Regions from separate parts of the Homo sapiens genome. Here all the other regions are linked to region 1. The links come from fine-mapping of genetic effects on gene expression. A gene starts in region 1. Each other region holds a variant in brackets. All regions are shown on one strand. Distances are from middle to middle.

Evidence for each region. PIP is the estimated chance that this variant, and not a neighbour inherited with it, causes the effect.
Region 2: its variant is fine-mapped to the expression of S100A3 in whole blood (TOPMed, PIP above 0.99).
Region 3: its variant is fine-mapped to the expression of S100A3 in esophagus mucosa (GTEx, PIP 0.98).

Annotation. Positions count from the first base shown.
Region 1 is chr1:153,547,851-153,550,609 of GRCh38, forward strand. S100A3 (S100 calcium binding protein A3) reads right to left here and starts at 1,408. Exons shown (of 3, transcript NM_002960.2): 1 at 1,331-1,408; 2 at 495-640. The coding sequence starts at 635. LOC101928034 (a long non-coding RNA gene) reads left to right here. Exons shown (of 3, transcript NR_125947.1): 2 at 571-1,265. RefSeq lists enhancers at 935-1,496, 2,060-2,621 and a silencer at 1,463-1,757.
Region 2 is chr1:153,509,822-153,512,580 of GRCh38, forward strand. No RefSeq gene overlaps it. Among named protein-coding and RNA genes, the nearest start is that of S100A6, 25 kb to the right of the region's middle. RefSeq lists an enhancer at 1-22. The variant G/A (reference allele first, on the strand shown) is at 1,251.
Region 3 is chr1:154,366,918-154,369,676 of GRCh38, forward strand. No RefSeq gene overlaps it. Among named protein-coding and RNA genes, the nearest start is that of IL6R, 37 kb to the right of the region's middle. The variant G/A (reference allele first, on the strand shown) is at 1,536.

The sequences.
Region 1 (2,759 bases):
GCAAGGGAAGGGTTGGGAGAGGTAAGGGAGTAGGATGAGGAGGGCAGAACAGCCTCACACGCCACCTCCCTCCTTCCTCTCCCAAGTGGACCCACCCCACCCCAAACTACACCCTTCTGAGGGCCGACTTCAACCTCCCTGCTCTGATAATGCACTCGTTGCAATCCCCTCCCAAATCTGTCCTCTCAGATTATTAATCGAGCACCTACTATTTGCTACTGAGTGCCTACCAAGTGTTAGGCATTCTTCATGGTGCTCTCACTCAGTCCTCTCAACAGCTCTGCAAGGCAGCAGGGATGATTGTCATCCCATTTTACAGATGAGGAAGCTGAGGTTTCTGCTGTGTCAGTTCTCCCCCTCCCACTCCCTCCTCACAATCCAGCCCCCTCCCTTGCTGTCCTGTGCTCATGCTTGTTGTCCCCAGGTCTCTCTTTGCAGAGTCTAGGCAGTGCCTCCCCCCGGAGGAGGAGGGGACGGACACTCTGACTGCTCACCGGGGTCCAGGTGGCCAGCTCCTTCTGCAGCAGCTCCTTGAGCTCCGCCTGGCAGAGCTTGTATTTGTCCCCACAGCGCCCTGCGTATTCCTGGAAGGTGCACACGATGGCAGCTACCGCCTGCTCCAGAGGCCTGGCCATCCTCACTGTCACAGAACAAGGGTGTGGCTCACAGCAGAGTTCCAGGCCAGCCCCCCAGCTCACCTCTGCCCTCTGTGTTTCTCAGAGACTGTTCCCAGACCCATCTTAACCTCCATCAGGCTTCAGGCCCCGCAGTCTCCCCCTCCTCTGAGTAGCCCTCCCAGACCACACCAGCCCCTCCTAATTTATCCCCCTGCTGTCCTGTTGTTATTTCCCCATGTAGAGGTCTCATTGCCCCAACATCGCTGTAAACTCCTCAGAGAGACAGCATCCTACCCCACCACCCACACACCCCACCGTGGGGCTCCTTAAGCACTCTCAGATTATCTGCCACCTCTTCTTATCCCCAACACCCAGGGATGGCTCGGTCCCAGTCTGCCCCAGCCCATGAGATGCCCTAGAAGCCTCCCTCCCTGCAGGAACTTGCACAAGGAGAGCCTGGCCCTGTGCTTCTCTGCCCTCAGCCCTTGGAGAAGCTAGGCCTTAGCAGGGAGGGGCAGGTCTGAGAGGCGCCCCCACAGCCTCACCACCACTGCCCTCACCCTGCCTCCTGCCCTGAACTCGAGGAAGCTGCACCCAGAAGAAAAACTTGTGGGATCCTCTCTGCCTGTCGCCAGCTGTGCAACCTTGGTGAGCCATTTGTCTCTCTGGGTCTCAGGGGCGGGGCCTGATCTGTAAGTTGGGGTTCATCTCACCTCGCTGGCCCAGTCAGGAACCTGAACCAGATGGTCTCTTGAGAGTTGACCAGTTCGGGTGTTTACCAATCTGAGACTGGCCTCCCCTGAGGTTACCCTCCCGACCCCTGGGGGTTTTGAGCAGGGAGGTTCTGTATAGGGATACTCTGTTCTATTGGAGGGGAAGCCCTTCCTGGAATTGCTCACCTCCCCCCACTTCCACTGTCCCCTTCCACCGCCCTTCTGGGATGATGCCTCCAGCCTGGGAAAACCCGAAGGCAGCCAGGAAGGCAAGAGTTTTTTCCATGCTAGCCCAGTGACTCACTCCTGATTCCCCCACGGGACAAGAGTCCTGCAGCACAGGGCGGCCAGGGCCAAGACTCTCCCTGAAGATTTGCCCACTGCTGGGCCCCCTGCTGGGAGCAAATGGCTGGCATGGTTGTGGCTGGCAGGAAAGTAGGGGAAGGGGAGTGGGGAGTGCCAAGCACTGCCAGGATTTAATTCATTGTAAACACCCCAGGATTAGAGCAAGGTGTCCAGGTTCCCAGGAGAGGAAAGGGCCATGATCCTCAGAAATGAGGAGACTCAGAGGTGAAGCAAGGAGGCAAGGAGCAGGTGAGGGGCCTGATCAAGGGGAAGACCAGAGCCTTGAGCCCAGTGCTCCCACCCCAAGGCAGACCTTAGCTCTACACACCTCCCTGCCCAAACTTCCCCAACAGCCCCTCACTGTGTAAGGAAACCTCTGCGTCCACTATATCTGACTTCCCTCCCCGTGTCAGGCCCGCCTGTGGTCATCTCTCTGCTTCCAATGCCAGACCCTGGGTCAGGAGTCAGGCTGGCTACTGGGGGTCCCCAAACTGCCCTGACACTCAACCCAGGGCAGGACCCAAGCAGCTGGCACTCACCACTGGTGCTGGCGTTTCAGCTGTAGGAGCTTAGAGACAGGGCGTCACTATTTGTAGCCTCCCAAGAAAGGAAGGAAGCAATTATGGGGGACACAAGTAGGTCAACACTGAGGATGCCCTCAGGGATCCCTCAGCAGACCCATTACAGGCCCCACCTGCCCACCTATCCACGCACACATCAAAGGCCAGTCTGGGCTCAGACACCACTCCCCTTTCATTCCCCATCTGCCCTCCCCCAGAGTTGGGAACAGGGGACAGTCTCCTGCCAAGTCCTTCCAGCTCAGTTGGAGGAGACAGTCTGGCTTATCCATCACATCACAGCCCCATCTCTTCACTCTGCAGAGGCCCCCAGAATACCAAGTGGGGACACACTTCTGCCTCGCTCAGGTTGCACCCCTACAAATCTCTATTCCGGGTAGAACTTGGAGAGCACGTGGCTAAGCCTCCCCTTTACAGACGAGAAGTCTGAACTTGCCTGACCAGATCCCAGCTTTTGGCTGTGAACTGCTTGCTTCCCAGGGGGGAAATCATCAGGTGGGATGTCT
Region 2 (2,759 bases), 38 kb before region 1:
CAGAATAAATTGCATGAACAGATCATGGAGGTGCAAAAGGGCATGGCAAGATCAGGAGACCAGGCAAGTGTCTGGCATGTGTGCCATGCTCCCTCTTTCTGCCAGCAGGGGGTGTCCTTAGCAAACCGCAGGGAGGCCGGTGCATTTGGCGCCATAGAAATGGGGCTAGTGGATGTTTTATCCCCACTTTGGTGCTTGGCAAACACCACTCACCACAATAATCAGTATTTCTACACAAAGGAAGCATATCCCCCTATTAATACAACTTCAACATCCTCTTTGTAAAATATTAATACTGGCTTTATTATGCTATGGTGCATTTTGTTTGTTTCCACTTTAATCTTTCAAACATCATAATCTGTTATTCCTCTGCCTGAGCCATCAGGCCAAATAACACCTTGCACTCACACGTTGTTATAACCCCAAACTTCTCTACACATAACTGAAGCAAAGGTTTCTTTTGTCTCTAAAAATATCTCTGCCCAAGGCACAGATCCAGGCCTAGGGAAGGGGGCAAATTGATGAAAAAATAAACAGAAGAAAAGACTGAGGCAAAATTGAGGAGGGCCTTGGGTGCAAGCCTGAGGAGTTAGATCTTGTTCTATGGGCATTATAGGAAGTCAATATAGGATTTTAAGCTACAGATCAGTTTTATTAGCAAAAAAGGCAAATGTTTTCTTTTTGTTGTTTTTGTTGTTTGGTTGATTGGTGCTATTTGAGAGTGAGTCTCACTCTGTCGCCCAGGCTGGAGTGCAATGGTGCAATCTTGGCTCACTGCAACCTCCACCTCCCAGGTTCAAGCAATTCTCCCACCTCAGCCTCCAGAGTAGCTGGGATTACCGGCATGCATCACTACACCCGGCTAATTTTTGTATTTTTAGAAGAGACAGGGTTTTGCCATGTTGGCCAGGCTGGTCTCGAACTCCCGACCTCAAGTGATCCACCCTCTTCAGCCTCCCAAAGTGCTGGGATTACACATGTGAACCACCGCACCCAGCCCAAAGAGCCAAATGTAACAGCAATGTGGAAGACAAATTGGGAATGAGAAGTCTAGCTCAGTCTTTTCCTTACAGGGCAGGGCTGCCCATCACTGGGACAATGTGACTTGAGATTTGACCCTAAAGAAGAGCAGAGGGGTCTGGCTTCTGCTCCAGCCAGCTGTTGTTCAAACATCTGGCCATCAGTTTCTCCCTTGGCAATCCCAGCACTCTGCTAGACCCCTCAGGCCTCTCCGCAGGCAAGACCACGAC[G/A]ATTGGAGACTGGGTGGTCAACAGGGGGAGCCAAAGGACCGGTAGTGGCAGCCCAAGGCTGGCCCGGTCTCCTGCCACGTGGAGGAAAAGGTAGATGCCAGTGTCCAGGGCCCGGGGCAGCCTGACCCTGTGGGCTCCCTCATTCCCAGGCCCAAGCCCTGACCTCAAATGGGAGAACCAAAAAAAAAGGTGGGGGGAAAGTCTCATTTTTATTCCCAAATTTGAGGCAGGAGGCTGGGGAGATTGACACCCACACTCCCAGATTTTTTTTTTTAAGGTTCTCAGTTTCTTGGAAAGTTTTTTTGTCTGTTTGTTGTTGTTTGAGGCAGAGTCTAGCTTTGTATTTTTTTAATGGTGCTTTTTGATTAACACAAATTTTTCATTTAAATGCAGTAAAGCGTTTTCTGGGCTATGTTCTTTTTCTTCTTGCTTAAGGAAACCTTCACCACCCCCAAGGTCATAACGATCTTTTTCTATATTTTCTTCCAAACATTTTAAAGTTGTTTCTTGTTTGTTTTGTTTGTTTTGTCTTGTTTTGTTTTGTTTTTTAGAAACAGGGTATCACTCTGTCACCCAGGCTGGAGTGCAGTCTCATGAACATGGCTCACTGCAACCTCGACCTCTGGGACTCAAGTCATCCTCTCACCTCAGCCTCCTGAGTTGCTGGGACCACAGAAGCAACCTCACCAGGCTAATTTTTTTTTTATTTTTTGTAGAGACAAAGTCTCACTATATTGCCCAAGCTGGTCTCAAACTCCTGGGCCCAAGTGATCCTCCCGCCTCAGCCTCCCAAAGTACTAGGATTCCAGGTGTGAGCCACAGTGCCTGGCCTCTGAGAGAGTTGTTACTCACCAAATTCAACAGTTTCCTGATCATTCATTGCATATGGTAGATTTGTATTTTCCTAAACTAACACTGTGGCTCTGAGCTGCACACAAAGGGCACCAGTCAAAACATAAAACATAGTCCAGCGCTGAGCTCCAGCCACAGAACAATCTGTAATAACTCACACTCTTAATAACTTCACAGCTAAAAGCGGTATTTATTAACGTATTTGCACAAGCAATCTGTAACTAGGGGGAGGAAAGGATACCCAGGATGTCAAGAAGTAAGGGACATTAGCAAAAGTTGAACATCAGCAGGAAGGATCTGTGTGTTGTCATCAAAATGGTAATTATGCCTTCATAGGAAAATTTGGTAGGAAAATAGTAATGCCTGTTTTTGGGGGAAAGGGAGGTGTGCACTAAAAGGAGTTTGGACCCATTCCTGGGAGTGGTTTCCTCAGGACAGACTATTAGTAAGTCTCTTCCCTCACCTAAGAGACTAAGAGCAGGCACATGGGGCTTTTTGCTTGGCTGGAGATTTGAAATTTTTGTGTTTTATTTGATGTTTTGCAGTGTTTTTCTAATTTTTTTCAAAATATATTAAATACACAGTTCCAGTGTTTTTTAATGCAATAAATTCTGAAAACATTTACATATAAAACAGGTATTCACCCCAGTATTTTAT
Region 3 (2,759 bases), 820 kb after region 1:
CCCAGATCTGGGGTGGGAGAGGGACATGGGAATGGCTACTTAGTAGGTATGAAGTTTCTACTTGGGGTAATGAAAGAGCCCTGGGACTTAGATAATGGTAATGGTTGAGGCCAGGCGCGGTGGCTCATGCCTGTAATCCCAGCACTTTGGGAGGCTGAGGCGGGCGAATCGTGAGGTCAGGAGTTCGAGACCAGCCTGGCCAATATGGTGAAACCCTGTCTCCGTCTCTACCAAAAATACAATTCTCCTGCCTCAGACTCCTGAGTAGGCGGAGGCAGGGTTGCAGTGAGCCGAGATTGCGCCATTGCACTCCAGCCTGGGAAACAACCGTAAAACTCCATCTCAAAAAAAAAAAACAGAAAGAAATTGAAAAATTAGCTGTGCATGGTGATGCATGCTTGTAGTCCCAGCTACTCAGGACGCTATTAAGCAAGAGGATCACTTGAACCCAGGAGTTCCAGGCTGCTGTGTGTTCACACCACTGCACTCCAGCCTGGGCGACAGACAGATCCTATGCCAAAAAAACCCCTTTTTTCTTTCTTTTCTTTTCTTTTTTTTTTTTTGAGACAAAGTATCGCTCTATTGCCCAGGCTGGGATACAGTGGCTCAATCTCAGCTCACTGCAACCTCCGCTTCCTGGGTTCAAGTGATTCTCCTGACTCAGCCTCTCGAATAGCTGGGATTACAGGCGCGTACCACCATGCCCTGCTAATTTTTTGTAATTTTAGTAAATACGGGGTTTCACCATGCTGGCCAGGCTGGTCTCAAACTCCTGACCTCGTGATCCGCCCACCTTGGCCTCCCAAAGGCCTGCTGGGATTACAGGTGTAAGCCACCGTGCCTGGCCAAAAAACCATTTTGTTTAGAGACAGAGTCTTGCTATGTTGCCCAGGCTGAGTGCAGTGGCTATTCACAGGCATGATCATACCATACCACACAGCCTGAAACTACTGGGCTCAAGCGATCCTCCCTCCTCAAACTCCTGAGTAGCTGGGACTACAGGCGCACCACTGCTCTTGGTTTTGTTTCCACCTTTGGCTAGTGTGAATAGGGCTGCTATAAACATTTTTGTGTGGCCGGGTGCGGTGGCTCACGCCTATAATCCCAGCACTTTGGGAGGCCAAGGCAGGTGGATCACCTGAGGTCTGGAGTTCGAGACCAGCCTGGCCAACATGGTGAAACCCCATTTCTACTAAAAGTACAAAACTTAGCTGGGCGTGGTGGTGGGTGCCTGTAATCCCAGCTACTTGGGAGGCTGAGGCAGGAGAATCTCTTGAACCCAGGGGGCGGAGATTGCAGCGAGCTGAGATCACGCCATTGTACTCTAGCCTGGGCAACAAGTGCAAAATTCTGTCTCAAAAAAAAAATTTTTTTTGTGTGCAAGTTTTGACTTGAACACCTGTTATCAATTATTTTGGTTATATACTAGGAGTAAAATTGCTGGTCATATGGCAATCCTATGTTTAACTTATTGAGAAACTGCCAAATTGTTTTCCACAGCAGCTGTACCATTTCATATTCATTTTCCATTCCCC[G/A]GCTTACTTTCCTTTTTAAAATAATTATTGCCGGGCGTGGTGGTTCACACCCATAATCCTAGCACTTTTGGAGGCCGAGGTGGGTGGATCACCTGAGGCCAGGAATTAGAGACCAGCCTGACCAATGTGGCGAAATCACATCTCTATTAAAAATACAAAAATTGGGCCAGGCGCGGTGGCTCACACCTGTAATCCCAACACTTTGGGAGACTGAGGCGGGCGGATCACCTGAGGTCGGGAGTTTGGGACCAGTCTGACCAACATGGAGAAACCCCATCTCTACTAAAAAATACAAAAAAATAAGTCAGCTGTGGTGGTGCATGTATGTAATCCAGGCTACTCGGGAGGCTGAGGCAGGAGAATCACTTGAACCCAGGAGACAGAGGTTGCAGAGAGCCGAGATCGCCCACTGCACTCCAGCTTGGGCAACAAGAGTGAAACTCCGTCTCAAAACAAAAACAAAAACAAAAATTAGCCGGGCATGATGGCGGGTGCCTATAATCCCAGCTAATAGGGAGGCTGAGGAATGAGAATCACTTGAACTCGGGAGACAGAGGTTGCAGTGAGCTGAGATCATGCCACTGCACTCCAGCCTGGGCAATAGAGCGAGACTCCGTCTCAAAATAAATAAAATAATATAATTATTATGGGCTGGGTATGGTAGCTCACACTTGTAATCCCAGCACTTTGGGAGGCCAAGGCTGGTGGATCACTTGAAGTCAGGGTTTGAGACCAGCCTGGCTAACATGGTGAAATCCTGTCTCTACTAAAAATACAAAAATTAGCCGGGCGTGGTGGCAAACGCCTGTAGTCCCAGCTACTTGAGAGGTTGAAGCAGGAGAATCATTTGAACGCAGGAGGTAGAAGTTGCAGTGAGCGGAGATCTGGGCAACACAGTGAGATTCTGTCTCTAAATAAATAAATAAATAAATAAATAATTAGCCAGGCGTTGTGGTGCCTGCTTGTGGTCCCAGTTACTCAGAAGGCTGAGGTGGGAGGATCGCTTGAACCTGGGAGGTCAAGATTACAGTGAACTATGACTTTGCCCCTGAACTCCAGCTTGAGTGACAGAAAGATACTGTCTCAAAAAATATATATATATATTTTTTAATTTTAGCTCACTATGGTCTCAAACTCCTAGGCTCAAGTAATCATCCTGCCTCAGCCTCCCGAGTAGCTGGGATTACAGGCGTGGATTACTCCACGCCCTGCTAATTTTTGTAT